Linked DNA regions of Homo sapiens. The protein of the gene in region 1 interacts with the protein of each later gene in a pairwise test. Each region holds a gene or a part of one and is shown in the gene's direction. Other genes may lie near its edges.

Evidence for each region.
Region 2: the proteins of CLSTN3 (region 1) and PGAP2 interact in binary tests that used the Homo sapiens proteins (3 or more experiments, as listed by UniProt).
Region 3: the proteins of CLSTN3 (region 1) and TMEM54 interact in binary tests that used the Homo sapiens proteins (3 or more experiments, as listed by UniProt).
Region 4: the proteins of CLSTN3 (region 1) and ZDHHC22 interact in binary tests that used the Homo sapiens proteins (3 or more experiments, as listed by UniProt).

What each region holds. Positions count from the first base shown.
Region 1 is NC_000012.12:7,140,362-7,147,379, forward strand, and holds part of CLSTN3 (calsyntenin-3 precursor), read left to right. Parts: intron 1-880; coding exon 881-1,043; intron 1,044-1,724; coding exon 1,725-1,778; intron 1,779-2,507; coding exon 2,508-2,665; intron 2,666-2,801; coding exon 2,802-2,950; intron 2,951-7,018. UniProt on the Homo sapiens protein: Postsynaptic adhesion molecule that binds to presynaptic neurexins to mediate both excitatory and inhibitory synapse formation.
Region 2 is NC_000011.10:3,803,660-3,811,577, forward strand, and holds the start of PGAP2 (acyltransferase PGAP2), read left to right. Parts: upstream 1-4,900; 5' UTR 4,901-4,992; intron 4,993-7,505; exon of another isoform or gene 7,506-7,590; coding exon of another isoform or gene 7,591-7,600; coding exon 7,601-7,765; exon of another isoform or gene 7,766-7,897; intron 7,898-7,918.
Region 3 is NC_000001.11:32,898,382-32,905,943, reverse strand, and holds the start of TMEM54 (transmembrane protein 54), read left to right. Parts: upstream 1-4,554; 5' UTR 4,555-4,705; coding exon 4,706-4,721; intron 4,722-7,562.
Region 4 is NC_000014.9:77,138,775-77,146,534, reverse strand, and holds the start of ZDHHC22 (palmitoyltransferase ZDHHC22), read left to right. Parts: upstream 1-4,743; 5' UTR 4,744-4,932; intron 4,933-5,790; exon of another isoform or gene 5,791-5,992; intron 5,993-6,782; 5' UTR 6,783-6,796; coding exon 6,797-7,322; intron 7,323-7,760. UniProt on the Homo sapiens protein: Palmitoyltransferase that could catalyze the addition of palmitate onto various protein substrates and be involved in a variety of cellular processes. Catalyzes the palmitoylation of KCNMA1, regulating localization of KCNMA1 to the plasma membrane.

The sequences.
Region 1 (7,018 bases):
TGGGCTGGAGATGTGGATTTTGGAGTTACCAGTGTATAACTATGGTACCCAAACCCATGGCAACAGATGAGGTGACTTCTAGGAAAAGAGTGTAGAGAGGAAAGAGAAGAGGGCCTAGGTCTGAGCCTTGAGGGACCCCAACATTTGGAACTGGATGAGGCAGAGTACTCTCTGCCCCTTTTTCCTCTGACCATCCCCCATTCCATCTTGGCTGGCCCTAGGAGAGACTGCAAAGGGAAGCAATATTTATTTTAGTGCTTAATGTTGGGTTAGAAGCTATCCTAGAGATAACCTGTGATCCCAGCTACTTGGGAGGCTGAGAGGATCACTGGAGGCCAGGAGTTGGAGACCAGCCTAGGCAACATAGTGATAGCTCATCTCTAAAAAATAAAAAAATTAGCTGGACATGGTGGCACATACCTGTAGTCCCAGCTACCCCAGAGGCTGAAGTGGGAGGATTGCTTGAGCCGAGGGGTTTGAGGCTTCAGTGGGCTATGATTGCACCACTGCACTCCAGCCTGGGGGACAGAAGGAAACCCCATCTCTAGAGTTTCCAGTGCCTTACACACATATGTAATACATAAGTTCGGGGGGCAGGGAATTTATTCATGAAAGTGTGTTACTCCTCTTAGGAATATTTATAGCTTTAACGATTTACCTGAAGAGTGGAATCTTTGCTACTAGGTTGGTTGCCTGATAGATTTTGGACAAGGATGTTATTCCTCGAGCTGGATAGGCAGCAAAGCACTAGTAAGCCCTGTTGGTAGAACTGGGAATAAAGGGACTGTCCCCTGTCTCCCAGGAGATGGGGCAGTGCCTAGGGTTAGCTCTCTGAAGACGAATTACCTGAGAGGCTCTTGCCCCTACCCTACTCTCCCAGGTCTGTGATGATGAGTGGCACCACTACGCTCTGAACCTCGAGTTCCCCACAGTCACACTCTATACCGACGGCATCTCCTTCGACCCTGCCCTCATCCATGACAATGGCCTCATCCACCCACCCCGAAGGGAGCCTGCTCTCATGATTGGGGCCTGCTGGACTGGTAAGCTTCTCAGTGAAGACTCCAGTGGTTCAGGATTTGGGAAGGGAGGTAGGCTGGTGAGGAGCAAGGGCAGTCTGACCCAGCAGCTGAGGCCGCCTCCTGCATCTCTCTGCAGCTGTGCAGGGTGACTCTGAAGATCTCCATGGGAAGGGACCACAGCCTCCCTCCCGTATCTCCCACTAATCCAATGGGTCATCACCTCTGACTTGGAGGAATTAACTTCTCACGCATCCCCAGACTCTCTCTCTGTAACTCCAGCCAGTTTCCACTTTTTTCCATCAAAGTGATGATGACTTCCATAGCCCATTCCCCTGCTCAAGGAGAGTAACCCCTTAGAGTGTCCTCGGTCTTCCAACTTTTAAGCCATTGAAAAAATTTTTCTCCTCTTGGGAGTGTGTGTGTGCACATGTGCCTGTCTGTCTTACCAGAGCCCACGTGTTTCCTCAGCAGCATATCGTATTTGGGGGTTTGTCTATAATAGAGGCTGGAGAGGTTGGAACATGACAAAAGAAGGGTTGGGGCTGAGCTGAGAGGTTGCAAGTTATACATGGGCAGGGTCAGAATCCCATGTGGGCATGAGAGCACTCATGGGGATGAGAGGAAGACATCTCATTCCTCTCTGTCAATCTCTCCACATCCCTGAGCTCACCAGCACTGTTTTTTTTTTTTTTTTATCCCCAGAGGAGAAGAACAAAGAGAAGGAAAAGGGAGACAACAGTACAGACACCACCCAAGGTACTCCGTGTGTAAGAACTGGAGACCAGAGAGTTCTCATCTTCACTTTCTGTTCTGAGATCCCTTTTCCACCCCAAATCCTATCCAGCCTGTGACAGCCTCCTAGGCCACCAGGGGGCAGAGCCTCCAAGAAATACAGCAGGGCAGGGGCTCCTGGAGTGGTAAGGCTAGAGGCAGCTTGGCTGGGTTCTGGGTATCCTGTCCTGCCCACAGAATGAAGAATGGGGCTCTCTTGGTGGCTTTCCACATGGTAGAAGGGAGGTGGCAGGAGTCAGGAGTCAGACACGCAGAAGGGGAAGGTCTGGGCATCTGTGAAGCTCGCTCACATCCATCCTGGTCTCCCTGCATGTCACTGGAAAGACGTTCTCTCCTGCCGCCTCCCCCTCCCTCCTTGTTTTGACTCTTTCCTCCTGTTGGTCCTGTTTCCTTCTCTTCCTCCCTCTCATCTTTGTTGCTTCTACTTTTCACCCTTCTTCTTCTCCCCTGGCTTTATTCTGTCTTCTTTTGTCTCATTTTCTCCCTTCTCTAGCCTCCCCCCTTACCTTCACTTCTCCCTCACCTCTCATCTCTCTTTTTTCCTTTTTTTTTTTTTTTTTGGTTTCCACATTTCTCCTTTTTTTCTTTCTCAACTCTTCTGCTCTTTCTCTCCTTTCCCTTTCTCTCAGCCTTCGTCCTTTTCCATCCTCCTCTCTTCTCACCTCCCGTCCTGCTCCTGTGTTCCTACCCTAGGAGACCCTTTGTCGATCCACCACTACTTCCATGGCTACCTGGCTGGTTTCAGCGTGCGCTCAGGTCGCCTGGAGAGCCGCGAGGTCATCGAGTGCCTCTATGCATGTCGGGAGGGGCTGGACTATAGGGATTTCGAGAGCCTGGGCAAAGGCATGAAGGTATTGCCCCATCCTCTAGCCCTGTTCTTCCCAGCATGCCCCTTGCCCCACCCCCTTGCCCTACCCCTCTACCTCTGCTCCCTTCCTCTGCCACCTCCTGGCCCTGCTCTCAGCTGTATCTGTGTCTGGGGCCCAGGTCCACGTGAACCCCTCACAGTCCCTGCTCACCCTGGAGGGGGATGATGTGGAGACCTTCAACCATGCCCTGCAGCATGTGGCTTACATGAACACTCTGCGCTTTGCCACGCCCGGCGTCAGGCCCCTGCGCCTCACCACTGCTGTCAAGTGAGTGTTGGGTGGGGCAGGGCAAATCACCAAGCAGAGCCAGACAGTGTCACAGCTCCTTGGCCTAAGGCGTCACCTAGAGCTAGGCATACCTCTTTTGTTTTATGGATGAGGAGATTGGGCCCTCAAATGGAGACAATTGACCACTGAAGGTCACATAGCAATATTGGTAGAAGAGTCTGGACTATACTCAGATTTCTCAACAATCAATCTGTTACTCTTTCTACCAAGTCACACATCTAGGGTTTCCGGGCTTTGATCTTCTCTATGCCTCTGTGCTGATACGTAAAGTGGGACACAGGATTGGGAGTGGGGAGACCTGACATTAATTCTGACTCAATGCGAATTGCTTGGATAACCTCGGGCAAATGGTGAGTCCTGGCTGCTTCACTTGTTTTAATCTTGCTTCACCAAGCTCTTGCAAGGTCACGTACGATGGCCTAAGTCTGGGGGTTGGCAGTCCTAGGCCAAATCTGGCCTGCCCACCTGTTTTGTAGTTTTATTGGAACACAGCAGTGCCCATTCATTGCATATGTCTATGGCTACTTTCACTGTGATGGCAGAACTGTGGGTAGTTGGGACAAAGATCATATGGCCCCCTCAAACAGAACTATCTAATCCTTCATAGAAAAAGTTTGCTGGCCGGGCACGGTGGCTCACGCCTGTAATCCCAGCACTTTGGGAGGCCAAGGCAGATGGATCACGAGGAGTTCAAGACCAGCCTGGCCAACATGGTGAAACCCTGTCTCTACTAAAAATACAAAAATTAGCTGGGCATGGTGGCACGTGCCTGTAATCCCAGTTACTTGGGAGGCTGAGACAGGAGAATTGCTTGAACTGGGACCCAGGAGGCGGAGGTTTCAGTGAGCCGAGATTGCACCACTGCACTCCAGCCTGGGCTACAAAGCGAGACTCCATCTCAAAAAAAAAAAAAAAAAAAAAAAGTTTACTGACCTCTGAATTCTAAGTGAATGACTTTTGGAGTCTTTAAAAGAAAAATTGTAGATTATTTCAAGGTTTGAGTATATATTACATGTTTAAAAATACAGATCAATTGAGAGGCAACGAAAGTATGATAGTTAAGAGCATAGGGTCTATTGCTAGCTTTTTGGCACTGGGCAAATGCTATAAAGTGGTGATAGCAATAGAGTCTAACTCGTGGAATTGTTACGATGACTACATGATATAATCTGGATCAAATGCCTAGCAGAGAGTGGATGCCGCTTAAATGCTGGCTATTATTACATAAAGGCATTTTCACCCCTTATTATGGTTTATGGGCGGTTTTTAGGAGATACTGCCATCTAGTGGGTGAATTACATGATTTAAGAGTTAGGATTTCTGCGTTCCAATCTTGTTACCCCTCTCCCCGATTCTGCCTCAGTTTCTCTGTGAGCTATATGAAGATAAACATCTCAAATTTGCCCCTATCCTGGGAGGGGTGGGTTTAGAGGGGAGAGGGCTCTGAGCCCTAGAGGGTGACTGGGCGTGATTATCAGGCCTCACAGTTAGAGCTGTGGAAGGCCCCGGGCTGTGGCTTTTGGGAATTTGCTGGTTCAGGGTGTGGAGCTGAAGGTCACAGGCAGTTGAGTTAATGTGGGTGCAGCTGATTGCTGAGTATGCACCCCGCCATGTCCCAGTCAGAGCTCCAGTTGTTAAAGGGCTGTCATCCAGTTATGAAAGGCTTGATCCCTCAGAAGCCAAGGCATTGCCTCGTCCCCTCCAGTGCTGAGGAGCCATGGCAGAAGGGAGGGCTCTGGTTTTTGGCCTAGGGTGGAGCTCTGCAAGGGGAGTTCCTGCGGGGGGAGGAGTTGACATTCTCTTTGCTGACTGCCTCATCTGAATTCCTGCTATCTTTTTCATGCCCAGGATAGAGGTTTATCCAAGGGCTTGGAACCTGCCTTTGAGGAAAGGGGCCTTGATGTTTTCTCTATGAGGTTAAGAAACAGAGTTTTCATTTCTCCATTTCTAAGGTTACTACATGGTTGGTGCTATCCTAATACTTCCCTGAGGTCACGGGAGAAAATATAGAGGGGTGTGTGTGTGTGTGTGTGTGTGTGCGCGCGCATTTGTGTGTATGTAACAGACACAGACAGGTACCTAGCAATACCTCCCTTTCCCTGATGCATTTCCTTGCCCCTGTCCCTGTGGCTTTCATAGCTTCCAGTTTTCAGTTCTTGGACCTCTGTCTATTTAAAGCCAGATTTATGCAACTATTTGGTCAATGCCTAAATGCAAGTTTTCCTGAAGTTTTTTTTTTTTTTAGTATTTTTCTTGGAAAGCCCATTTACTTGTGGAATTGACCCCTGAACAGATAGATACCACATCTATTTCTCTAGTTTTGTCCTCTTTCCACAGCTCTTGACTTTCCATCTGCTTCCTGTAACCTCTATCTAGAAGTTCTGCTAGCACCTCAACCGAAAGAGCTAATGCTGAAATAATCAACTGCAATCCCAAACCAGCCTCTCTCCCTGAACTCTCTCTGTAATGGTGCCTCTGTCCTTGCAGTCATCCAGAGCTTGAAACCTCTGAGTCATCTTTGATTCTTCCCTGTCTTTATCCTCCACTGCCCATCAGTTGCCAGCTCACCTGGACCCTGCCTCTGTGCCGCGTGTCTGAAATCTGTCTCCTCTTTCTTTTGCTGCTGTTACTGTTCTAGCCCAGGTCTTATTACCTCTTATCTGGCCCATTGCCTCCTAACTAGCTGACCTATCTCTAGTCTTCGAATTTTATTTATCCTCTACTCTGAGGCTAGGTGAGTGATCTTAAGTTGAGTTTTCATCATCACACTTCCCTGATGAAAAAGACGTCGGTGGCTTCCTCTTGCCCACTGCATAAAAATGTCAAATGTGCTGGGTGCCGTGGCTCACACCTGTAATCCCAGCACTTTGGGAGGCCAAGGTGGGAGGATCACTTAAGGCCAGAAGTTCGAGACCAGCCTGCACAACCAACAGACCGCAAGTCTGTAGTCCCAGCTACTCAGGAGGCTGAGGTGGGAGAATCACTTGAGCCCAGGAGTTCGAGGCTGCAGTGAGTCATGATTGCACCACTGCATTCCAGCCTGGGCGACAAAGCGAGACCCTGTCTCTAAAAAATTAGAGAGAGAGAAAAAAAAAACAGATCTTATCATGGCATTTAAAGCTGCCAGCCATCTGGCTTCTGGTGGTTCCTGCCTCATGTTCCTCTACTCCCCTTAGTAAGCTTCTCGCCATCCACTCTGGGTCAGTACTACCCTCCTTCAAAGGCTAGCTCAGTTGCTACTTTCTCTGATCGTTCCTACCTTCCTTTTCCAAGCACCCTCCTCTTATCCTAGGCAGAACTAACCTCTCCCTCCTCTGAACTCTTCTGGTTGTTTGTTCCACTCATATGGCGATGACCATATTTGCCTTTCTTTTAACTTTTGTGTGCCACGTCTAATCTCTCTACCAGACCAACGGTGCCTTTGGGTCAGGCCTCCTATTCCCCTTGGGATTCCCAGACCAGCGGCACAGCACAGCATTGCTCATTGCAGGGAGGATGTCTGTTGGAGCCTGTGCCTTCAGGGTCATCTGGGATTGTTTCCCAAGGGGCTTTGCCCTAGGCCTATCTGGATGGCAGACTGTAATAGGCCCTGCTCCGTGTGGTACAGGAACTCAGCACATCCCGGGCATTGGCAACTTCAGGGGCTCTGAGCTCATCATGCCTACTGAGATGATGCCTTCTCCCTTTTTACTCCAGCATTCAAGCTGGGCATGCTCAGTAACACTAATAATTACAGTCCTCTCTGTAAAATCATTTCCGCTAGCACCAGCGTGGGGATCAGAGTCCATGCTCCTGGATCACTAACTCCACCGTGAAGTCTGCTTGTTCAAGTGGGGAAACTTCTTTACAGATACATTTCCCTGGTGCAAACCCAGGCCCCAAATGGTGCCTGTGGTTTAGTGGAAAGATCAGTGGACTTGGGCGGTGTGTGGTGGCGCACACCTGTGGTCCCAGCTCCTCAGGAGGCTGAGGCACGAGATTGCTTGAACCTGGGAGGCAGAGGTTGCAGTGAGCTGAGATGGCACTACTGCACTGCAGCCTGGGCAA
Region 2 (7,918 bases), on another chromosome or scaffold:
TTAAATGTTCCACCTGCCTTGGCCTCCCAAAGTGTTGGGATTATGGGCCTGAGCCACCGTGCCCAGCCAATACTTTGGCTTTTAACCAGAACATTTAGTCTAATGCATTTAACGAATTTACTGCTATATATATATATATTTTTTTTTTTGAGACACAGTCTCATTGTGTCGCCCAGGCTGGAGTGCAGTGGTGCGATCATGACTCACTGCAGCCTCTGCCTCCCAGGTTCAAGTGATTCTCGTGCCTCAGCCTTCCTAGTAGCTGGGACTTCAGGCGCGTGCCACCACGCCTGGCTAATTTTTGCATTTTTAGTAGAAAGAAGATTTTATCATGTTGGCCAGACTCGACTCAAACTCCAGACCTCAGGCGATCCGCCTGCCTCAGCCTACCAAAGTGCTGGGATTACAGGCATGAGCCACCATGCCCAGCCCATTTTTCCCACTATACTAGTTTGAAAGTTAAATTCTCTTTTCCTATTAGTATTATTTTAGTGATCTCCCTAGAAATTACCACATGCATTCTTAACTTACCAAAGTGTCATGCTCATAAATACCTTTACGGAAGGATAGAGTTTCCTGAGATGGAGGCAGGAAGAGAGAACATTCCAAGCTAGATGAACAGGGAAGCAAGCAGATGAACAGGGGAAGATTTAATTGCTATCTGAGTCAGAGTGAGGCTAGAGCAAGATGAGTGAGCTGGGGGTGGGTGGTTTAAAGCCATCCAGGAAGGATGTCTTGGTCATGAAAAAGATCTTTGAGAAGAACAAGAATAACTCCTCCTCAACCCAGGAAGGACACTGATTTTCCTGAGGCTTCCCAGGAGGCAGTGGCAGAGCTTGGTCTAAAGCTGGATGTCTTTAGCAGTCTATGTCCCTGCCTCTATACCTACCCCAGCCATGCTCACTGTGTCCCCTTTCTAGCAATTCCTCAATCTCTGCTTACCTGTCTAAATACTGCCCATTCTTCAAAACCCAGTTCCATTAAATCAACCCAACAAATATTTTCTTTTTATTTTTGTATTTTGTATTTTTATTTTTAATTTGTATTTATTTATTTTTTTGAGGTGGAGTCTCGCTCTCTCACCCAGGCTGGAGTGCAGTGGCGCAATGTTGGCTCACTGCAACCTCCGCCTCCTGGGTTCAAGCAATTCTCCTGCTTTAGCCTCCCAAGTAGCTGGGATTACAGGCGCCCGCCACCAGGCCTGGCTAATTTTTGTATTTTTAGTAGAGATGTGGTTTTGTCACGTTGGCCAGACTGGTCTCGAACTCGTGACCTCAGGTGATCTGCTCACATCAGCCTTCCAAAGTGCTGGGATTACAGGCGTGAGCCACCGCACCCGGCCCAAGAACTCTTTTTATTTCTTTTATCTTCCCTCACATAAATCAAGGTAGGCGAGGTCTTTCAAACTGATAGTGAAATAAAGAGATTTCAGAAAGGGTCGGTGACAGCCAAGGTCAGACAATACAAAAAAAGTTCAGGACGAGTTCACACTGTGGCTGACATGTCTAATCATAATGACCATCATGTACTGAGTACCTCCCACATGGCTGGCACACTGCTACATTACCTCTAATACAACAACCCTATGATGTGGATATTCTTTTTTTTTTTTTTTTTTTTGAGACTGGGTCTTGCTCTGTCACTCAGGCTGTTGTGGAGTGGTATGATCTCAGTTGACTGCAACCTCTGCCTCCAGGGTTCAAGCAATCCTCCCACCTCAGCCTCCTGAGTAGCTGGGAATACAAGTGTGTGCCACCACACCCAGCTAGTTTTCTGTATTTTTTGGTACAGATGCTGTTGCCATGTTGCCTAGGCTGGTCTTGAACTCCTGGGCTCAAGTGATCCTCCTGCCTTGGCCTCCCAAAGTGCTGGGATTACAGGTGTAAGCCACCACACCCAGTGTGGATATTCCTAAATCAATTTTACAGGCTGGGCACGGTGGCTCATGCCTGTAATCCCAGCACTTTGGGAGGCCAAGGAAGGAGGATCGCTTGAGCCTAGGAGTTCAAGACCAGCCTGGGCAAGACAGTGAGACCTTTTTTTTTTGAGACACGGTCTTGCTCTGTCTTCAGGCTGGAGTGCAGTGGCGCGATCTCGGCTCACTGCAACCTCTGCCTCCCAGGTTCAGGTGATTCTCCTGCCTCAGCCTCCCAAGTAGCTGGGACTACAGGTGCGCGCCATCACGCCTAGCTAATTTTTGTATTTTTAGTAGAGACAGGGTTTCACCATGTTGGCTAGGATTGTCTCGATCTCTTGACCTTGTGATCCGCCCACCTTGGCCTCCCAAAGTGCTGGGATTACAGATGTGAGCCACCACGCCCCCGCGAGACCTTGTTTTAAATAAATAAATAAAACCATTTTATAGACGAGGAAACAGAGGCTCAGGGCTATATGGAGAATTGCCCATATTTCCCAAATCACCAGAGAATTAAAGAATTAATCTAAATTAGAGCACCTCAAGGTTTGGGCATTGGGGGTAGTCTAGAGGCAGGGAGAGGGGACCCAGCCTCAGGGAATGGTACTTAGGGCCAAGAGAACAGACAAGGTGTCAAGATAGGGAACAATAGCCAGGAGCAGACACCCCTGGTTGGAGCTAGACAAAGAGGATGACATGAAGCCCCAAGGCAGAAAACCTGAATCTAGTTGCCAAATTTGGAGAGAGGTAGTTCTTTTTGTAAAGTTTTGCTAGTCCATTTGTCCTGGGACCTTAAAGAACAGGATAGGGGAGAACTCAAAATCAAGAAAAGTAGTTTTTAGAACAAGACACTCTGAGTGCGCACCTTCTCCAGACTTCGGAGCCCCTCAGAGTGCGTCTGAGGTATCTCTGGGTCCTCCACCATTGCTCCACATGAGGCCTGTCAAAGAGAGGGCCTAGACTGGGTGAATGAACAAAAGTGAACACATGAAAAAGAGCTCTGGCAAATTAATCAACAAATGCTAAGTGGCATTAACAGCATATAGTGGATTATGTGAATTATCTCAGGTACCAGACTTGAGTCCTGGTTCTGGCATGTATTAGCTGTGTAAGTAGGTAACTTGGTTTCCCTGTTTTCCATTGTAAAATGAGGATATTAAATAGTATCTACTGGCGGAGGCTCATGCCTGTAATCCCAGCACTTTGGGAGGCCAAGGCAGGTGGATCACCTGAGGTCAGGAATTCGAGACCAGCCTGACCAATATGGCGAAACCCCATCTCTACTAAAAGTACAAAAATTAGCCGGGCATGGTGGTGCCGCCTGTATTCCCAGCTACCCGGGAGGCTGAGATAGGAGAATTGCTTGAACCCGGGAGGTGGAGGTTGCAGTGAGCCGAGATCGTGGCACTGCACTCTAGCCTGGGTGACAGAGTGAGACTCTGTCTCCAAAAAAAAAGAGAGAAAGAAAGAAAAAAAAAAGGCCAGGCGCGGTGGCTTACACCTGTAATCCCAGCTCTTTGGGAAGCCAAGGCGGGGGCAGATCACGAGGTCAGGAGTTTGACACCAGCCTGGCCAAAATGGCAAAACCTCGCCTCTACTAAAAACTACAAAAATTAGCTGGGCGCAGTAGCGGGCGCCTGTTAATTCCAGCTACTCGGGAGGCTGAGGCAGGAGAATCGCTTGAACCCTGGAAGCGGAGGTTGCAGTGAGCCGAGATCGTATCTATTTTCACAGGTTTTTTTTTTTTTTTTTAATGGAGTTTCGCTCTTGTCGCCCATGCTTGAGTGCAGTGGTACGATCTCAGCTCACTGCAACCTCTGCCTCCCGGGTTCAAGCGATTCTCCTGCCTCAGCCTCCCAAGTAGCTGGGATTACGGGCGCCCGCCACCGTGCCCGGCTAATTTTTGTATTTTTAGTAGAGACGGGGTTTCGCCATGTTGGCCAGGCTGGTGTCAAACTCCTGACCTCAGGTGATCCGCCCGCCTCGGCCTCCTAAAGTGCTGGGATTACAGGCGTGAGCTACCGCGCCTGGCCCTCACAGGGTTTTTATGAGGATTAAATAAATGAGATAAGAAGTAAGAGTGCCTGGGATATACTGGGTGTTCAGAATGTGTTATTGCTGTGAGGATTTAAGTGGAAAAGTGCGATGTTAGGTATGGCTAACTTAGAGGTCCTCCACCCGCTGCAGATGCTCTGACTACCCACCAGTGTGCTTGCAGGAGGAATTCTTGGTCCCTTCACCCTCCTTCCCTGTTGGGCTGGGATGGTCTTTGCAAAGGGAGCCAGGGGTCCCCCTCAAGTTCTTTCATGGGTCAGTCATGGTCAGGGTAGGGAGGGAACTCTGGCAGCTGGTTTTGGGGGATCAATCCTCTCATTGTGGGGAGACCCAAGGCTGGTGGCTGGAAATCCTTTCTGCGCTACGTAGGACAGGGCGCCCTCTCCTGAACAAAGGCGGGAACAGCTCTAGGCCAGAGTTTCTGGGATGTGCCTCACCGGGTCTCACTGCCTGCAAAGGTGCTCTTCCCATTGCTGAAATGTCCCCAACCGCCCTGACGAGCAAAGTTTGGGGGAGGGGCGCCAGGGCTGGGAGGAAACTGGCTTAATGTTTCAGAAGGGCGAGGCTGGATAGTTCGGTTAGAATGGAGGTGCGAGGCAGGAGAGACGGGCGGATGAGAAAGAAATCCGGCCCCTGTTGAATTAATTTTGTGTTCTTTCAACAGGTAGATGGAACGCAGCTGAGAGGTAAGGCGACAAGGTGGCTTATCCAACATGCTCAAACTCAGGTATCCAGAGCTCTTCCGGCTGCCCTCACGCAGCCGAAATTAGTGGGGGCAGACCCGGGCTGTAAAGCATGGTTTGAGGACACGCCAGATTGAGGAGGAGAGCCAGGGGTCGGGGTCTCCAGAAGCGGGGAGGAGCCAGCGGAGGATCTGGGCGCAGTTTCCTCTCTAAGTTCCGCCCCGAGAGCGCCGGCCCCGCCCCCGCCGTTCGCGCTCTGACCAGCCCGCAGAGCCAGCCCCCGACCCCGGGCCACCTGGGCCCCCGGGTTCCGCCGGCACTCTCGCCACCACCGCGTGGGTGAGTATGGGCATGGATGTGCTGGGCTGCCGGGCAGCCCCACTCGGGAGCTTGGCCGCGCGGTCTGGCCTCTGCAGGGCCGGGCCCCACGCTGTGGGAGTCCTGGTACCTGCCGTCCTATCGCACACACTCTGTTTCCCAGGAACTGCTGCTCTCTGGACTTGCCGAGCTGGCCCCCTTCTTCTCCCTCCCCAGCGTGGGGCCGGGTGTGCAGGGGTTGAGCTCTCCCTTTATTCCGCGGGGCCTCCTGGTCAGGAGTCCTAGGTGGGGAGGATGGGGCCCCGGGGTTGGAACCCCATAGAGTAGTTTTGAATGGCAGCTGTGCCATTTATTAGCCTTGGCCTTGAGTAAGTGTTTTGAACCTCCCTGAGCCTCAGTTTCCTCATCTGTAAAATGGAAATATACAGGCTGTAGCACCTACCTCATAGAATTATGGTGAGATTAAAAGAGACAATGTATATCAAGTACAGAGCAGGGGGCCTAGTATTCCGTAGGCACTCAGTAAATGTGGGTTCAGACTCGAGGCTGAGGAGATCTCTAGGGACTTTGGAGCTGAGGTAGCTCCAAAGAAAGCAATTTTCAGCTAAGTAGTACCTGTGAGGAATGTAGAACTATCTGCAGGCTGAACAATTGCCCTTCAGCTCCACCCTGAGGTGTGGAGTAGAATGACCAAGTTGGAAGGACCTTAGAGGTAATCTAAACCATGTGATTCCCATGTTGCAGAACTGTGGAAACAGATCTAGAGTGCTTAAGTGGCTTGCCAAAGGTCACACAGCTAAATGGGAGGCCAGGCATACCTCCAAGAATTGGAATGGATTATCCCTTGAACCTCCTCATCAACTCCTGATTTGGGCAGTGCCTCTTCATTCCCTGAAGATCTAGTCTTCAATTTGGGAATCCTAGTGGTTCCTCAGGGATCTAGAGCTGCAGCCTTCAGGGAGGGATACTGGGAGGGAAGACTAGTGCTACTGCAACTGCAGAGTCTAGGTTTGGGCTGGGTGAGGAAAATGTTCCCCATCTAGGGCCCTAAGGGACTTAGAGTCCATTTAGGGATGATCCAGGGAATGTGTTTTTTTTCTGGGAGGGTCACCAGAGCCACTTCCAGCTCCCTGGGATCCCTGATGCTCCTAAAAGGGAGAGAGGAACTTGAGCAATTGGAGCAGGCTGCCTGATCAGGTCTGGCAGCTGGGGGAAAATGGGTGAGAATGTGGAGGCGTAGCCACCTGGCTTGTTCTGGAATGCCAGGATGGCAACCTAACTGAGATCAGGGTTCTTTTTGAGGGTGGGACTAAAGGGAGAGTCTTGTGGGTGGGGTCAGGAAGAGTTGGGACTTGATTTGACAAGGTCTTTGAGCCCAGAAGGGTATATTCTTTATGTGTCTGGAGCCAGCCCTAGCTTGGCAACAACAAGCCAACGTTCCAGGGATGGCTTTCCCTTCAGCTCAGCACAGGGCTTTGAGGAAGAGCCAGCCCTTCTCTCTCTCTGAGTGTCTTGGTTTCTCTATCTTTACAATGGGAATAGGGCTAACTGCCTCATCTATGTAGATTTTGGTTTTTCCTTTTCTTCCTCCTGTGAACAGGTGCCTCTTCTGCCTCTCTCACTCCAGTCCTAACCTGACCTTTCTCAAGTTCAGACACAGAGAGGAAGGGGTCAAGGAAGGCCAGAGTTGCAGTGTGTAACTCTTCGTGGGTCCCACATGTATCTCTTTGTTATGTGATCCTGAGCAGATTCCTGCTCCAACTTTCCCTTCTGTATACTGTGCGGAGCTGGGCTAGGATTGTTGGTATACACTTATTTGTTATAGTTCCTGACCTTAGCTACCCTTATCTAAGGGGGAAATCACAGCCCCCAGGAACCCTCATCTGTTCACAGGAGGGTGATGTGGACAGCCCCCTGGGCACTGGGAAGCCTCCAGAAGCTGACCAAGCAGCTCTCTCCAGCAAACAGCAATCCCAGGCTAGCACCAGGCCTGATTCTGCAAAGCCTTTCACCCTGGGGGCACGTGAGGGAGCAGGCTGGGACAAGCAGGGGGCTTGGGGTTCTGTCAGCTTCCATGGAATCCCTGCCACTGTGGACTGCGGTGCAGGCACACAGAGCCTGGGAAGGGACTGAAGGTGCAGGAGGGCCCTGGGCCAGTGGGGAAGCAAATGAGAGCTGATGAGAGGCCTTGAAGCCTGGAGGCTGGGCCGAGGCTCAAAGGCCTGGGGGAGGAGATGGGCCATGCCATCCACTGGTAGGTTTTAGGGTTGGTTCTTGAAATAAAGAGAGACACTTATTTAAAGCAGCTTCTCTAGTCCTAGGCCTGTCAAGCTAGGCAGAGAGGAGTGAGGAGAAGCTCTCCCAGTCCATTCAAGCTTTATCCTAGCACAGATTTGGTTCATTGTCTTCCCTCTGAAATTGAGGTGGAATGTTGTCTTGGGATTCTGAGTCAGTCTTCCTCATCCAGGGCAAGAGCTATCCAAGTTTAGGTGCCTTCCTCCTCAGACTCCCCACCCCACAGCACACAGCTAATTTTAGGACTGAGCACAAGGGCTGACTTTATCACTGAGTGCCAGCCTGGCTGCCTGGGGCCCTGACAGCATGCCACTCCATCCCCAGGTCTGACAAGATGTACCAGGTCCCACTACCACTGGATCGGGATGGGACCCTGGTACGGCTCCGCTTCACCATGGTGGCCCTGGTCACGGTCTGCTGTCCACTTGTCGCCTTCCTCTTCTGCATCCTCTGGTCCCTGCTCTTCCACTTCAAGGAGACAACGGCCACACACTGTGGGGTAGGGCATGGGGACACTGATACCTCATATTCAGGCCGATCTGGATCTTCTTTAGATCTTGAATATCTTTTAACAAGATTAGCCAGCTCTCCACTGGGGCCCATCAAACATACGGGGCTGCTGGGGGGATGCCTGCAAATTGAAATCTCAAGG
Region 3 (7,562 bases), on another chromosome or scaffold:
AGGCTGAGGCAGGAGAATCACTTGCATCCAGGAGGCAGAGGTTGCAGTGAGCCGAGATGGCACCTGCACTCCAACCTGGATGATAGAGCAAGACTCCATCTGGAAAGAAAGAAAGAAAGAAAAGAAAGCAAGGAAGGAAGGGAGGAAGGGAGGAACGGAGGAAGGGAGGGGGAAAAGAAAGAAAGAAAGGCACAAAAAACTTCAAAAATGTGAACGGAGGTATACAGTCTCGCTCTGACGCCTAGGCTGGAGTGCAGTAGCACGATCTCGGCTCACTGCAACCTCTGCCTCCTAGGTTCAAGCGATTCTCCTGCCTCGGCCTCCCAAGTAGCTGGGACTACAGGCACTTGCCACCACATTGGCTAATTTTAGTATTTTTAGTAGAGATGGAGTTTCACCTTGTTGGACAGGCTGGTCTCAAACTCCTGACCTCAGGTGATCCACCTGCTTTGGCCTCCCAAAGTGCTGGGATTACAAGCATGAGCCACTGTGCCCTGCCTGATTTCTGCTTTATACTTTTCTGTTTTTCTCTCAGTTTTTCTACAATGGGTTTTTTTTCCAGACATGTAAAAGAATACAAAAATTAATGTAACACTCCTATTCACACCATCTAGAATCCATAACTGTAAACATGTCATATTTGCTTTAAAAAAAAAAAACTTTAGAGCTATAGTGAAAGTCTCCTTTAACTGCCTCTTCTTCTCTCAGACAAGCATGGTCAGTTGGTTTTTAGTTTTATATACAGGTATATACATACATAAACTAGAATCTGGTACAGTTGTGTGTGATGGCTTTACTTACATGGAGGAACAGTTCTTAAAATCAGGGAGGGATGGCAACCTTCTTTAAATTGAGGAGGGGATGCACAAGGACTGGCAGCCTGAACCCACCTTCCCAGCTAAGCAGCCCCCTGGGAGCCCCTGCCCTGGGGAGATCCAGCTCCCAGCTAAGTGCACGGGCCACACCTGGTTGTTAAATGTACCAGGAAGATAATTGCTATTTGTATTTCTCTGGATAGCTTCCAATGAACTTTCATATCTCGCAAGTCATTGATGGCTCAAAAAATCTGGGAAACCTGGAAAGAAAATCATTATCCCCATTTGACAGATAGGGAAACTGAGGCCCAGGAAATGGCAGTGAGCTGCCAGGATATCACAGTGAGTTGATGGAGGATAAGGAACTAGAGCTCAGACCTGGAGTTCTTTCCAGAACCTCAGGCCAGCATGCAGAGGGGTGGAACAGAGGCCAAGGCTTGCCAGGTAGCTGGCACTGATGGACTTTGGCCACATGGCAATGAGGAAAAGAAGTGGCAATAGCTTCAGACCACTGAGGTTGGCTGACGGCTGGGAAATTATGGTCTGGAGAGAAGCAGGTGGAAAGTTTTCCTTCCTCAGAGGTCCCAGAGGGCAGGCACACTCCTGGGGACTGTGGCTCTCCCCACCCCCAACACACACACACTCAGAAGTCAGGAGCAGCCTCACAGTCAGACAGGTCCAGGTTCAAGTCTCAGCTTTACCACCAATATATGTTGTAGGGTCTTTAAAAAGTCCTTTACCTCTCTGGGCCTCAATTTTCTCATCTGTAAAATGGAGTGATTATCTTTAATTCTGTGTTGTTCCAAGGATAAAAGAGAATCATCATCTATGCATCTGGAAACAAAAGCATTTAAAAGGTCCCCAACCTAATTCCAGAAGGCTCCAGCAGGGGTTAGAGTAAAGAGGACTGCCTGACACTGACTGATAGAGAAGCCACATCCATGCACACACATGAGGTTTGACATCGGCTTTGCAGTGACCACCTGTGCTCTCCGGGGCAGCCCCTGGGAGATGGGCATTGGCATCACAAGCTGTTGGTGGAATGAGGGCAGGGCAGTGGTGATGAAGGGGCCCTTCCTTTCTTTTTATTTTTTCTTTTATTTTCTTTTTTTTTTTTTTTTTTTTTTTTTTGAGACAGAGTCTTGCTCTATTGCCCAGGCTGGAGTGCAGTGGCACAATCTCGGTTCACTGCAACCCCCGCTTTCCGGGTTCAAGGGATTCTCCTCCCTCAGCCTCCTGAGTAGCTGGGATTACAGGCGCCTGCCACCATGCCCAGCTAATTTTTGTATTTTTAGTAGAGATGGTGGTTTTGCTGTGTTGGCCAGGCAGATCTCGAACTCCTGGCCTCAAGTGATCCACCTGCCTTGGCCTCCCAAAGTGCTGGGATTACAGGCATGAGCCACTGCGCCAGGCCGGCCCTTCCTTTCTTTTCAACAAAACCAAGGCATGAATTCATTCTAATACTCCAACTTCAACCATACAGCCATGTGTAAAACAAAAAGCAAAATCCTTCCCGTCACTCTCCTGCATCGCTCTTGGTTATCACTTTGGTGCCATTGCTTGCTATTAGGAACAGTTTGTCCACAAACACCATTAGATGCATGCATATCTTTGCACTCTGGTGCGTAGGATAAAGATCTACAAATGGAATTTCTGGGCCACAGTTACAAGTGTCTGAACATTTTTTTTTTTTTTTGAGACGGAGTCTCACTCTGTCACCCAGGCTGGAGTGTAATGGCCCGATCTCGGCTCACTGCAAGCTCCACCTCCCAGGTTCACGCCATTCTCCTGCCTCAGCCTCCTGAGTAGCTGAGACTACAGGCGCCCGTCAACACGCCGGCTAATTTTTTTTTTTTTTTTTTTTTTTTTGTATTTTTAGTAGAGACGGGGTTTCATCGTGTTAGCCAGGATGGTCTCGATCTCCTGACCTCGTGATCCGCCCACCTTGGCCTCCCAAAGTGTTGGGATTACAGGCATGAGCCACCGCACCCGGCCACAAGTGTCTGAACATTTATAATATGAGTAAGTACTACCCAAATTGCCCTACTAAAAGATTGTCTGAGGACATCAACATTCCGATGCCAGCCCGATGTCTTCATAAACTGCCCCCATCTTCCCTTCCACCTGACAAATATGTCTCCCCACCCGGAATTCCCTGCACATTATCCCCCTTCAGACAGCAGGTGACAGGGAAGCAGCTCTGCTGGGGGGTTACCAGATGGGATGCCCCGGGGGGCTTCCTAGGAGAAATGGCTCCACTTCCTCCCATGGTGTTAATGCGTTCTCCAAACTCCAGAGGCTCTACATCTGACCCAACTGCCCAACACACACAGCGCCGCAGGTGTCAGCACAGGTGTGCAGAAAGACACACAGACAGTGGACAGCCCCCAGGACAGGCTCCAACCAAGCACCCAGAGACAGCCAGCCAGCCCCTGACCTCTGGGACACTGCCCAGTGGGGTAAGTGGGGCAAGCTGTGAACAGATGTTGCCCAGTTCCCATAGTAAGTGCCTCCAAGGACCGAAAGAGCCCAGGGAGGTGGCCACGGTGTGGCCACTCTACAGAACTTGGGCACAGAGACCCAAGGGGATTCCAGGCTCCTGCCTACTCCACCACTTCCAGCTGGTGGTCTTGGGTGAGTGGTCTGTGGTCTCTGAGCCCAAAGGTGCAGGAATGGTACCTATGCCAAAGGGATGCTGAGACTAACAAGGGACCTCACTGGGGTCCATCCTGACACATTAAAGGGCTCAGCAACCCAGAGCAGTACTAATAAAGCTCCTACTATGTGCTCTTGCTAGGTCTACACTTTGTCCATACAGACAGTCTGGAGAGTTTCCAAAGCGTGTTGTTGTTGTTTTGTTGTTTTGAGATGGAGTGGCGAGATCTCAGCTCACTGTAACCTCTGCCTCCCGGGTTCAAGCGATTCTCCTGCCTCAGCCTCCAGAGTAGCTGGGATTACAGGCTTGCCCCACCACATCCGGCTAATTTTTGTATTTTTAGTAGAGACGGGGCGGGGGGGGGGGTGCGGGGGTGTTTCACCATGATGGCCAGGCAGGTCTCGAACTCCTGACCTCAGGTGATCTGCTTGCCTAGGCCTTCCAAAGTGCTGAGATTACAGGCATGAGCCGCCGCGCCCGGCCGAAAGCGCTTTCTTACCTAATTTTTGTATCCTATTTTGTCTCACCACGACCTTCGGGGACAGGAATTATCCCTGATTTTCCAAGGACGGAACTGAAGGCCCTCCCGACTAAGAAGGAGACTTAAAGCGCCTTTTTCAGCGTGGAAGACAAGACTCGCGGGCGCTAAAGGCAAGCGCAGAGAGGGGAGGCGATTTGCCTGAGGTCACACAGCAGGCAGGGGCAGACCCCAATCCCCAGCAGCTCTTTCACTGCCCCTGCTGCCCCTCTCCGTCCCAGCCTTGGGCCCGGGGGCTTTCCGCCCAAGAGCCACACCCAAGTCACGGTAACCACAGCTACGCCGGCAACCCCCAACTTGCCGCGGGCCCGCGCGGGGCGGCTCCTCAGAGCCTCAGTTTCCCTTTCTAGAGCGGGCCCGCCGCCGCCGGTGGGCTGAGGGAGGGCGGCTCGGCGCCGGGCGGGCCGGGCGGGGCGGCGCCTGACTCAGCGGGCGGGCCATGGGCTGCTCAGCCGGTCCGACCGGCCGGGAGGGGCACGAGCCGCGGGGGCGCTGCGGGGCCGGGCGGCCCGGGGGGTGACGGGAAGGGAGGCCGGTCCGGCGCCGCCCAGCCCCGGGCTCCGGGCGGGAAGTGGGCGAGCGCGACGGTGCGGGGCGCGCGGGCGACGGGCCAGCGGGATGGGAGCAGGGTCCCCCGGCGGCCCGCAGCCTCGGGAGCCGCGCTGAAGCCGGGGGCGGGACCAGCGCGGAGCCGACATGTGTCTGCGCCTCGGTGAGCGACTGGGGGCGCGCGGGAGGCCCCGAACCACCCCAACCCTCCCACAGGAGCGGAGCACTGAGCCCGGAACCCGAGCCCCCAGGGGGCCAGGCCACCTGCTCTGCCTCTAACTTACTACGAGGCCGGGGTCGGGTCACTTTCCTCTCTGGGCCTCAGTTTCCCCAGCAGTGAAATGGAGGGGAGGAGCGCTGCGGGTGTCTTCTCGATGTGGCTGTAGCGTCTCTTACCCTCGCCCTCTCTTGCCTTTCCTGCGGAGGCGCACGACTGCCCTCGGGGACCCCCGGGTGGGCGGCAGAGGAGACGCTGGAGAGAGCAGCCCCATCTTACCCAGAAGGGACCCCGGGGCCAGGCCTCAGCTTCCCCACCCTTACAAGGGGCTCCCACTTACATACTCTCCACTCTCCCGAGGCCAGGAAGGAAAGCCGTGGGCAAAAAGGATCAGCAGCGGGGGAGCGGGACTAATGTGCCCCCTCCTTCCACTGCCTGGGCACGGTGATGCTGCTTGTGGGCAGCAGAGTCCTGGGGCATCCCCGCTGTCTAGCCGAGAGACCTTGTGAGCCTCAGTTTCTTTGTCTGTAAGAGGGGGACAGTAGTTCCCACCTCCTAGGACTACTATGAGGATGAGGGCAGCTTCTAAGAGTAAAGCGCTTAGCACCTTGCCGGCTGCGCTGCTATGCGCTCCCACAGTGGTAAGACAAATGAAGCCAGCTGGGCTTCATCTGGGAGGCAGCACTCTGGGAGGCCGAGGCAGGCGGATCGCTTGAGTCCAGGAGAGACTAGCCTGGCCAACATAGTGAAATCCGTCTCTACAAAAAATTTAAATAAAGAAAAAAAAATTTAGCCCGGCTACTCAGGAGGCTGAGGTGGAAGGATCACCTGAGCCCAGGAGGCAGAGGTTTCAGTGAGCCACGATCAGGCCAGTGCACTCCAGCCTGGGCTACAGAGTAAGACCCTGTCTCAATCAATTTAATTTAAAAAGTCAAGGACTGCTCCAGGCTCAGTCCAGTGCTCCAGGCACAGCCCCATGCTGGCACCGTGCCTCCTCTTTGACCAAAGTCTTGGTCCTGGGATGCTGTTGTTATTGAGTCCAGCCCTCAGCTGGAAGGTAGACACCGAGCTCCCAGGTAGGTGGGTGGAGGGGGTGAGGTGGGTCAGGCTCCTGCGCTGAAGCTGCCATGCCCCTTCCTGCTTGGCTGGCAGTCCATCTTCACAATGCTATTCCAGTCTCATGGTGCCTGTCCAGCCCATCGTCTGCCCTCTGCTTCTGCTAGACCTGGTTCAGCTCCAGAGGGTCCTGCAGTCTCCAGGGGTCTCAGACACTGGCTGGACCAATGCCTCCCCATTTTATAGATGTGGAACTTGGGGCCCAGAGGGGAGGGGCTGGTGCATGGTCACACAGCAAGTCTGTGACTGAATAGCCCCATCCCTTCCTGCTCCCTGGGGACTGTCTCTTGGCACAGCTTCAGACAGATGTCCCAGAGCGTCCAGTGTAGAGATTTCATTTTTTTTAGACGGGGTCTCTGGCTCTGTAGCCCAGGCTGGAGTGCAATGGCACGATTATAGCTCACTGTGGCCTCCACTTCCTGGGCTCAGAAGATCCTTCTGCCTCAGCCTCCTGAATAACTGGGACTAGAGGCATGCACCACCATGCCTGCCTAATTTTTTATTTTTATCTTTTTGGTAGAGATGGGATCTTGCTATGTTCATCAGGCTGGTCTTGAACTCCTGGCTTTAAGTGATTCTCCCACCTTGCCCTCCCAAAGTGCTGGGATTAGAGGCATGACCACTGTGCCCAGCCTCTTTTTTTCTTTTTTTTTTTTTTTTTCAGCTGCAGAGCTACCGTATATTAAATATGACCAAACCGCTCTACCACAGATGAGGAGAGGGAGGTCTAGGAAGGGACTCAGAGTCACATCCCATCAGAAGCAGCTAAAGAAGGGGATGTTTAGTTCTAGGGCCTGACCACAGTCTTCAAGTCTCAGAGCTGGCTCTAGTGAGGGGCTGGCAGGGCCAGGGGGTGTGGTGTGTCTCCTTGAAGGCAGAGCTAGGACTTATGGGCAGATTTCAGACAGCAGGTCGGGAGCCGGCATGTGCAGGTAGGGCTGGGCAGCCACTTGGCCACTGAGAGCATCTGAATGAGTCCCAGTGTTCTTTTGATCCCAGCTTCCCCCACTCACTCCATCCTGCCAGGTTCCCCCTGCACTGAGAGCTTGCTTTTCCCAGTACCCTCAGGGTACACCACACTTTCCCATCCACTTCCTCATGGACCCACTGAGAGACAAGGTTCTTCTTCCCATTTTACAGATGGGGACATGGAGATTCAGAGCCTTGAGTTACCTCCCCAAGTCACCTGGCTCTGGGCAGTTCAGTTCAGCAGCAGTGTCAGCATCTGCTGTGTACCAGGCCCTATCCGTGAATCTGAGTACCAAGCAGGGCCCAATTCCTGCCCAATGAACTCTGGCTCCTTGTGGCCTGGAGAGTGACTGTGGAGCTCACCGTCGTACCCCAGGGCCTGGCACAGAGCAGACACTCTGTGAACATGTGTAGTGAACACACGAATCAGTGAATGGGTAGCTTAGTGGGAGGATCTCGAAGTCTAGAGCTAGAGACCTGAGCTAGCGCCCCCCACTCATGACCTTGAACACTAACAAGTGCTACTGCTAAGAGCTACCTGTGTGCTTGTCCAGCCTTAGAGTCCCAAGGATTCTCACAAAGGCATCCCGAACCCCTTTTATGGATGAGGAGACCAAGGCTCAAAGAAGACAAGTTACTGGCTCCAAGTCATTCAGAAATACATTTAGAACCCAATGTCCATCACTAGGGCCAGGGCCTCAG
Region 4 (7,760 bases), on another chromosome or scaffold:
TCCTGTAATTGAGATGTCCACCTTCTGCCTCATTCCCTCCCAACCTGGACACCTGGCATTGCAGGGCTCTCGATGGAGACAGCTGATTTTGCCCTGCTCCTCCCGAGCCTCCTCCATCATGAAGACATAAACTTGGTGTGTCAGACAGATAAATGAGCACTCTCTCACTACCCCCCTTTCTTCTCCTTCCTGTCTCCTTTTCTCTCTTCTCCTCTCTGCCCTCTCCCTCCCTCCTCTTCTTCCTCCCTATACCCCCTCTTTCTCCTCCCTCTGCCTCCTGCGTGCTCTGAGATGAAAGGGCCAGTTAATCTTGCTGCCACCGCTTCCACAGGGCTGGGTACTCGCTTGTCCACAGGCACAGGCGTCCCTACCAGGACTGCCTAAACGGTCCCTGGAAACCATGGCTAATTGGTGAAAGAGCCCATTGGTTCATTCTTCCACAGCCTGGATACTGCAAAAGAGGCTCTCCCAAGCTAACCCAAGATTTCCACCCTGATGCACCAATCACCTGGGAGACCACTGGGTTTACTTGTCACCCAGACCTGTAGTTTCTACCTTGACATGTGAGCTTGGAGGCTGAGCATACCTGCCCCTAATCACACACACCCCCTCCAGCACGACAAACAGCAGAGTGCCTGAGGGCATTTGATTAATGTGCTGCAGGCTTACAAGTTTATGCATATTATATTTATTCATTCAACCAATGTTTACTGAGCACCTACTACTATGTGCCAGACACTGTTATAGGCACTTGGGATATAGCAGTGAATAAAGCAGTTCAAATCCTACTCTCACGGAGTTGAGAATTCAGTGGGGAGAGACAGACAGTAAACAGACAAATATATACCTGTCAAGTGGTGATAAAAGTTGTTGAAGACAAAGCAGAGTAGACAGGATGCAGAGTGCAGAGCACAGCAGTTTTAGGTAAAGGGAGATCCTTCAGGTCTGTTACTCTGGGGGAGTATGTTACATACCTGCTTCCTTTATGCAACTGACATGTTCCAGAAAAGTTAAATATCGATGAGATATGTTTTGCATATTAAATCATATTTCAAATCAAACATAGTCAAGCCTTGCAAATTAACATGCAGCAAATCTCTGAACCTCAGTTTCCCCATAAGGAAAATGGGTTTGATAATTCTCACCCCAGCTAGTTTGTGCTGTTGAGAGAGATTCATGGGATGAAATTTTAATTTTGTGGATGACTTTGTAGCCTGCAAAGCACTTTATTACATCAAAGTAATGTTATCGTTGTTAAAATGAAGACATAGTTAGCAAAGTAAATTACCACCTCCAAATAGAAACTCTGTGATAATCCAATTTTCATGTATTTAGTTGGCTAAAATGAAGATTACACTTGCATGTTTTCCAAATCTGGGCAGGCAGGGATGGCATCTTTGTAAGCCTTCCCAGGCTTGGGAAACACTCTGTGGTTATCCCTGGCTATGATCTGCTGTCAGCGCTAAAGAGCATCCTGACCCAAGCCTATCTTCACCTTGATCTATCTGAAATAAGAGCATAAGAATGAAAGAAAACCACCACCAGCCTTCTTAGGTGCAGCTCCTTGCATCTTGGAATAGTCTCCATCCAAAACATTTGGGGCATTATAGGCCTGACAGACATGGAGGCGGGGTTACTCACTCAAGGCAGAAGCTGCTTGCTACATGGATTTCTCTCCTTGTAATACAACACTCTGAAGCAAAGTGGAATAATTTCCACTTGAAAGGGAATTCATTTTATTCAAATAACACCACCAAATAGCAAGATTGAGGGCGCATATCTCCAGGAAAGGGCTGGACAGCAATGAGATGCTTATCTGTGCCCCTGTCCCCATGGGACTGCCTGCAGGTACAGTTATGGCTTAACTATAGGAATCTACAGCAAGAGCAATGGAGAGTGTGGTTTATAAATCATTTCTGTCACTGTTTATGGAGGATGAGATTAGAGTCAGGGTGGGTGGTGGCAGGTTGCAAGATCAATGGCAAATGTGTCCTCAGCAGATATTTCTCTTTGAGACAGAGTCTTGATCTGTCACCCAGGCTGGAGTGCAATGGCATGGTCTTGGGTCACAGCAACCTCTGCCTCCTGGGTTCAAGCGATTCTCCTGTCTCAGCCTCTTGAGTAGCTGGGATTACAGGCACTGGCCACCACGCCTGGCTAATTTTTATATTTTTAGTAGGGACGGGGTTTCCCCATGTTGGCCAGGATGGTTTCGGACTCCTGACCTCAGGTGATCTGCCTGCCTCAGCCTCCCAAAGTGCTGGGATTACAGGTGTGAGCCAATGCATCTGGCCCTCACCAGACATTTCAAAGACCTCAGAATATAGCTCTTCCTTTCACAGACAGACCAGTAGCAATTCATCGATCAAGAGACTTTTACTCAGTGTCAACTCTGGGCAAATCATCCTATTAGGAAATATGGAAGAAACCCCAAAACATTTCCAACATAGGCAAGGAGCTCTCATTTTAGTTGGAAAGTGAAGAGAGTCCTGTGGTTGAAAAGAGGAGCCCTAAAGATGTGGGAGACGCTAAGGTGCTTAAATTACATGATCCCATTTGATCATCATCACCACAAATAACAGCAGCATTCTTATTCCCATTTTACCGATGAGAATACTGAGAGCAGAGAGGTTAAATGACTAGCAGCTCATGGTCACACAGCTGGTAAATGGCAATAAAATGCTCATTCTTAGTCTGCTTGACTCTCATAGGGCCAGAATCCAAGTGAAGTTTTCATATTGATTTTGCCTCCCTATTGATTTTGTCAGGGATAAGCATAAGTTTTAGAAAAACAAAATGACATTTGCCGTGCTTCCCTTCACTCCATTCCTTAAGGGGAGCTGAGGAACCACTAGCTTTAGATCTGAAGCTGTAATGTCCTTTTCTGTTGATAAACGATATTTCTAAATAAATAATCGTCCTTGTCCATTTGTGTTTCCACGACCAGATCTCCTTTTCCTGACTGAATACTCCCTTCCCCCACTAACATCTTCCCACGTTCGCTTAGCTTCTTTCTCTCTTTCCCTTTCCTCATACACACAGATTCAGACACACACCTTCCCACCTCACACCCATATGCAAAATAAAATTAGAAATACCACCCGACTCACAAGGTATTTGGGGAATGGAGATCTTCAGTCAGTATACCCAAACCCAAGCACCCCAGCCAGCCTCCCTCCCTGCCAAGCCCATGTGAGAGGCAGACAGAGCTTGTGAAAAGGGGCCCAGACGGCCACGATTATGAGACAAAGCTGCTCTGAAGGGAAAAGGGCCATGTGTGCCTCCCCATGTCTGTCCTGTGGCCACTGGAACTCACAAGGCTACCAGCTGCTCACGGCCACCATGTGGCATATACTGTTCTTTCACTTACATGTCAGATCCTTTTAGAATGTGAAAAGGTTTCCTGGCCTCTTTTTTATTTTGATGTATGCTGATAAATTACAGAGGAAACAGTGTGTGGTTATTCAAGAATAGAGGCTGAGCTGATCAGCATATGGCCCTCATTTCAAGGGATTGCTCTTGTTTTAATCAGCCAGTTGAGAAAGCAATAAATGTTTATTTATTAAGTATGCCATCACCGAGAGGAGAGGAACAGGGCAGGTAGGTGAGCTGCGACACCCAGGAAATTGAGGATGGTGATGGCACCAATATTCCTGCAGTGTTTGATGTTTTTAAGGCTCTGCTCCCCCCACCCCCCACTGTTTGATACACATTGGTGTCACTACCCTCTTGGCGCATCACAGTACCCACCTTAGAATAGCGGAGCCCTGGAAGGGGAAGGAAATAGAAATAAGAAGGTGGGGGTGAGGCTCAAAGAAGAAGCTCCAAGTTCAAGCTCTGTGTCTGGATAAACTCCCATTGTCTTTCCTTCTCTCAAATCAGAGCTGCCCGTGGGTCCCAGGGTGATGCTGGGCTGTGTAGAGGCTGAGTGCAGGAGCATTAATGCTAGAACCAGGTTCAAGTCCAGGCTCTGTCACTTAATGGCTGTATGACCTTAGACATGAGACTTAGCTTCTCTGAGCTTCAACCTCCTCATCTCCAGAATGGGGCTCAGCCAGCTTCACAGATCAGGCTGAGAGGATTAAGGAAGCATCTTATGCTAAAGGCTTAGCACAATGCCTGCTACCTAGTAGGGGCCCGATAAGTAGTGTCTAATTATGATCTAATCAAGCAGTGCTTGCCCTGGGCAGGCCCTGTTTAAGGGTTTTACATAGATTGTCATTTAACCCTCATATCTCTATTTCACAGATGAGGAAACTGGAATCTAAGATCACACTGGAATTTACAGACGAAGAAACTGGAATCTGAGATCTCACAGTAGTGAATGGTGAATATTCAAACCCAGGTAGACAGGCTCCAGAGTCCCAACTCCCAACCCTCTGTACACAGCCCTTCCGAGGAGATGACGCTGATCTTCATGGGTGTTGCCCTGGCAAGCTGACCTCTCAAGCCCCCAGGGTTCCTTCAGTCCGAGTGGAGAGCAGGGAAGGTCGTGGGACCTAGCCGAGAGGGAAGGGCAGGATGATGGCTGGAGAATCCACATCAGGGCTGAATCCCAATCTCCCAGCTGGAACGGGCGCTGAAACCAGGCAGGGCGCCCCAGCCCGCTCAAGGGGAATCGAGAGGGGAGGAGGGGGCAAGTCCACGATGCTGAGACTGGCGGCCAGAGCACCGCCCCCAGGAGCGGAGGGAGGGGTGGCGGGGCTGGGGGGTGCCCAGCTGCCATCCCCGCCGCTTCCTGGCCCTTACTCGCTGGCGCCCAAGTGGGAAGCCAGCAGCTGCCCGCTCCCTCCTCCCCACATCCCCGCTACTTGCCCAGTTCCCGAAGCGAAGCGCAGGCTGCGAGCCAGCCGGGCCGAGTCCACAACTTTGCAGCCTCGGGCAGGGCGAGAGCCGGCGTCCGGGGCTCCTCTTGTCGGCGACCAGAGCTCGGTGAGTTGATTTCCTCACCCCTCTGCGACGGCGGCAGTGCGGCGGCGGCGGCGCGGGGGGCGGCTTCCCGTGCGTCCGGGAGGCAGTGGCCGAGAAGCCCGCGGCTGCCGGCGCTGCCGGTCTTTCCAAGGCTCCGGCTGTGCCGCCCTCTGCCGCGGGCGAGGCGGGCGCCAGGGCTGAACGGACAGCTCCCTACACCCCGGGGCCCCACGGGCGGTCTCTGCTGTCCCTTCTCCCGCGCAGGGCCAGGGCTGAGGCTGCCTGCCGAGCGCCCCTCACTCCCCTAGCCCCTGTCCTTCGCCGCCTTCCCAGCGCTGCGGCGCATCTGGCTGCTCCCGCGCCCCCCTGGCGACCGGCGCCGGGAAGGCACTTGCTTCGCCGGAGCCCCAGGCCGAGGGCTCTCTGGGGTGGGCAGCACCGCCGCAGCCCCCGGCGGCGCAGGACTGGGGGCGTGCCCAGCCCCCGGCGACCACCCTCAGGCGTGCACTGCGCTGCGCCCCAGCGGTAGGGAGAGGCCCACGCTCTCCGCGGAGGCTGCGGGTTCCCGGGGGGCGCTGGGACCTGCAAAGGGGATTCCAAGGTGACCAGTCGACCCGTGCGGACGGGACAGCCTGGACGGAGGCCCCGTGGCATCCACCCATCCTAGGTGCAACCGCCTTCCCAGAACTTTTCTCGCGCCTCCGGCTGGCCGATTCCTTAGCCCCTGGAAAAGTTCTCTCGGGCGCACGGAATCCTATTTCTCGGTGGCTTCCGAAGCTGGCCAGGAACCCCGGCTGTGAGGCGTGGGGTGGGATGGGGACGTGGTGAGGGCTGAGCACGGCGGCGGGGTCGATCCCAGGAAAGGCTGGCCAAGCATCCACTCGTGCGCCCAGGGCGGGCTTGTCGGCATGGAAAGGATTTCGGCGCCATGAGGGTTGTTTGGGTTTCTCTCAGCAGGAGGGCGGGAGGCGGGCGCGAAGGGGGGATTTTAATTTCGCCTCAAATGAAAACGCTCTTCGCAAAGAAATAGCCCGGGCAGCCAGCGTTGGAGAGATGTGCTGGCCAGGACCCGCTGACACAGGTATTCTGGTTGCGCCCCCACCTCACCCGGTGCCCGAGAGCGAGTGTGAGTGTATCGATTGTTTCAATTGATTTTTTTAAAGCTAGATAGCAGAGGCTGCGTGTCTGTACACGCAGATATATACATACACAAATACAGATACTCAAGCGCACACAGATTACACGTACAGAGTCACAGACAAGGACACACACACACACATCGTGGTCCCTCACGCACACATACCTCCAAAGAGCCTTGGGTAACCTGGTGAGGTCCCTGAGTGCTGCCCAAGATGTGTGTGTGGGTGGGGACGCAGGGACGGAGAAAGGGGAGTGTGAAGCAGGATTTCCAGCAGGTCAAGTGCCGCTGATTCTCCTGCCCCCGACCCCAAATCCTTCCCTTTCTCCTCCTAGGGAGGTCTGAACCAGAAATCCCAAACCTGGGCTTGTTTCCACATCCACAGAGGGGAGGAGTCCTATCCCCCGGTGCCCCCCACCCTCACAACTCCTAAAGACTGCAAACGAGTCCCTCCCTCCTGTGCCAGACTCTGCCGCGCCAAGGCGCCGAGCTCGCTCAAAACCCCAGGCAACACTCACCCCCAGGTGGGGCCTAGACCCGAGGCCGCTGCGGGCTCGGGTCTCTGGCCTGCCTGATCCGGGGTTAGGGAACTGGGGAGGGGAAATCCGCGGGACAGGGGGTTGGGGGCGTGGAGTCGCGTGCAGTGCCCCAGACGCGCGGCACGGAGGAGCGGGCGAGGGCGCCCCCTGGACGCCGTAGTCAGTCAGTCCTCTTCTCACCCCGGGCCCCGCAGGAATGTAATCGAGGATGCTGGCCCTGCGGCTGCTCAACGTGGTGGCCCCCGCCTACTTCTTGTGCATCTCCCTGGTGACCTTCGTGCTGCAGCTCTTCCTCTTCCTGCCCAGCATGCGCGAGGACCCCGCGGCCGCCCGGCTCTTCTCGCCCGCCCTGCTCCACGGGGCGCTCTTCCTATTCCTCTCGGCCAACGCCCTGGGCAATTACGTCCTTGTCATCCAGAACTCCCCAGACGACCTGGGGGCCTGCCAGGGGGCCTCGGCCAGGAAGACTCCATGCCCCTCACCTAGCACCCACTTCTGCCGAGTGTGCGCCAGAGTCACCCTGAGGCACGACCATCACTGTTTCTTCACCGGCAACTGCATCGGCAGCAGGAACATGCGCAACTTCGTCCTGTTCTGCCTCTACACCTCCCTGGCCTGCCTCTACTCCATGGTGGCCGGCGTGGCCTACATCTCCGCTGTCCTTTCCATCTCCTTCGCCCACCCCTTGGCCTTCCTCACGCTCCTGCCCACCTCCATCAGCCAGTTCTTCTCCGGTGAGTGGGCCTTGGCGGGCAGGTTGGGCTCTACACAAAGACCTCCCACCCCAAAGGTTGCCGGGCCCCAAACCCCAACCCCAAAAGTTGCCAGATTTAGCAAATAAAAATACAGACCGTCCCGCTAAATTAAAATTTCAGATAAACAACTCATAATTTTTTAGTATAATTATGTCCCAGATATTGTATGAGATACACTGAGAAAATTTGCTATTGGCTATCTGAAATGCAAATTAAGCGGACATGCTGTATTTTATTGGTAACATCCCCCCTTGCCCCCATCATTCTCATCCATCATGCTGTCCATATGCTCACAGAGTTGTGGCATCCAGGTAATACACCTGCTCTGTGCCAGGCAGGACTAGGTGCTGGCCATTCCTCCATGTAGCCCCATGAGGTACAACCATGCTATGACATTCCTCTGCCTGGTCCCCAGTT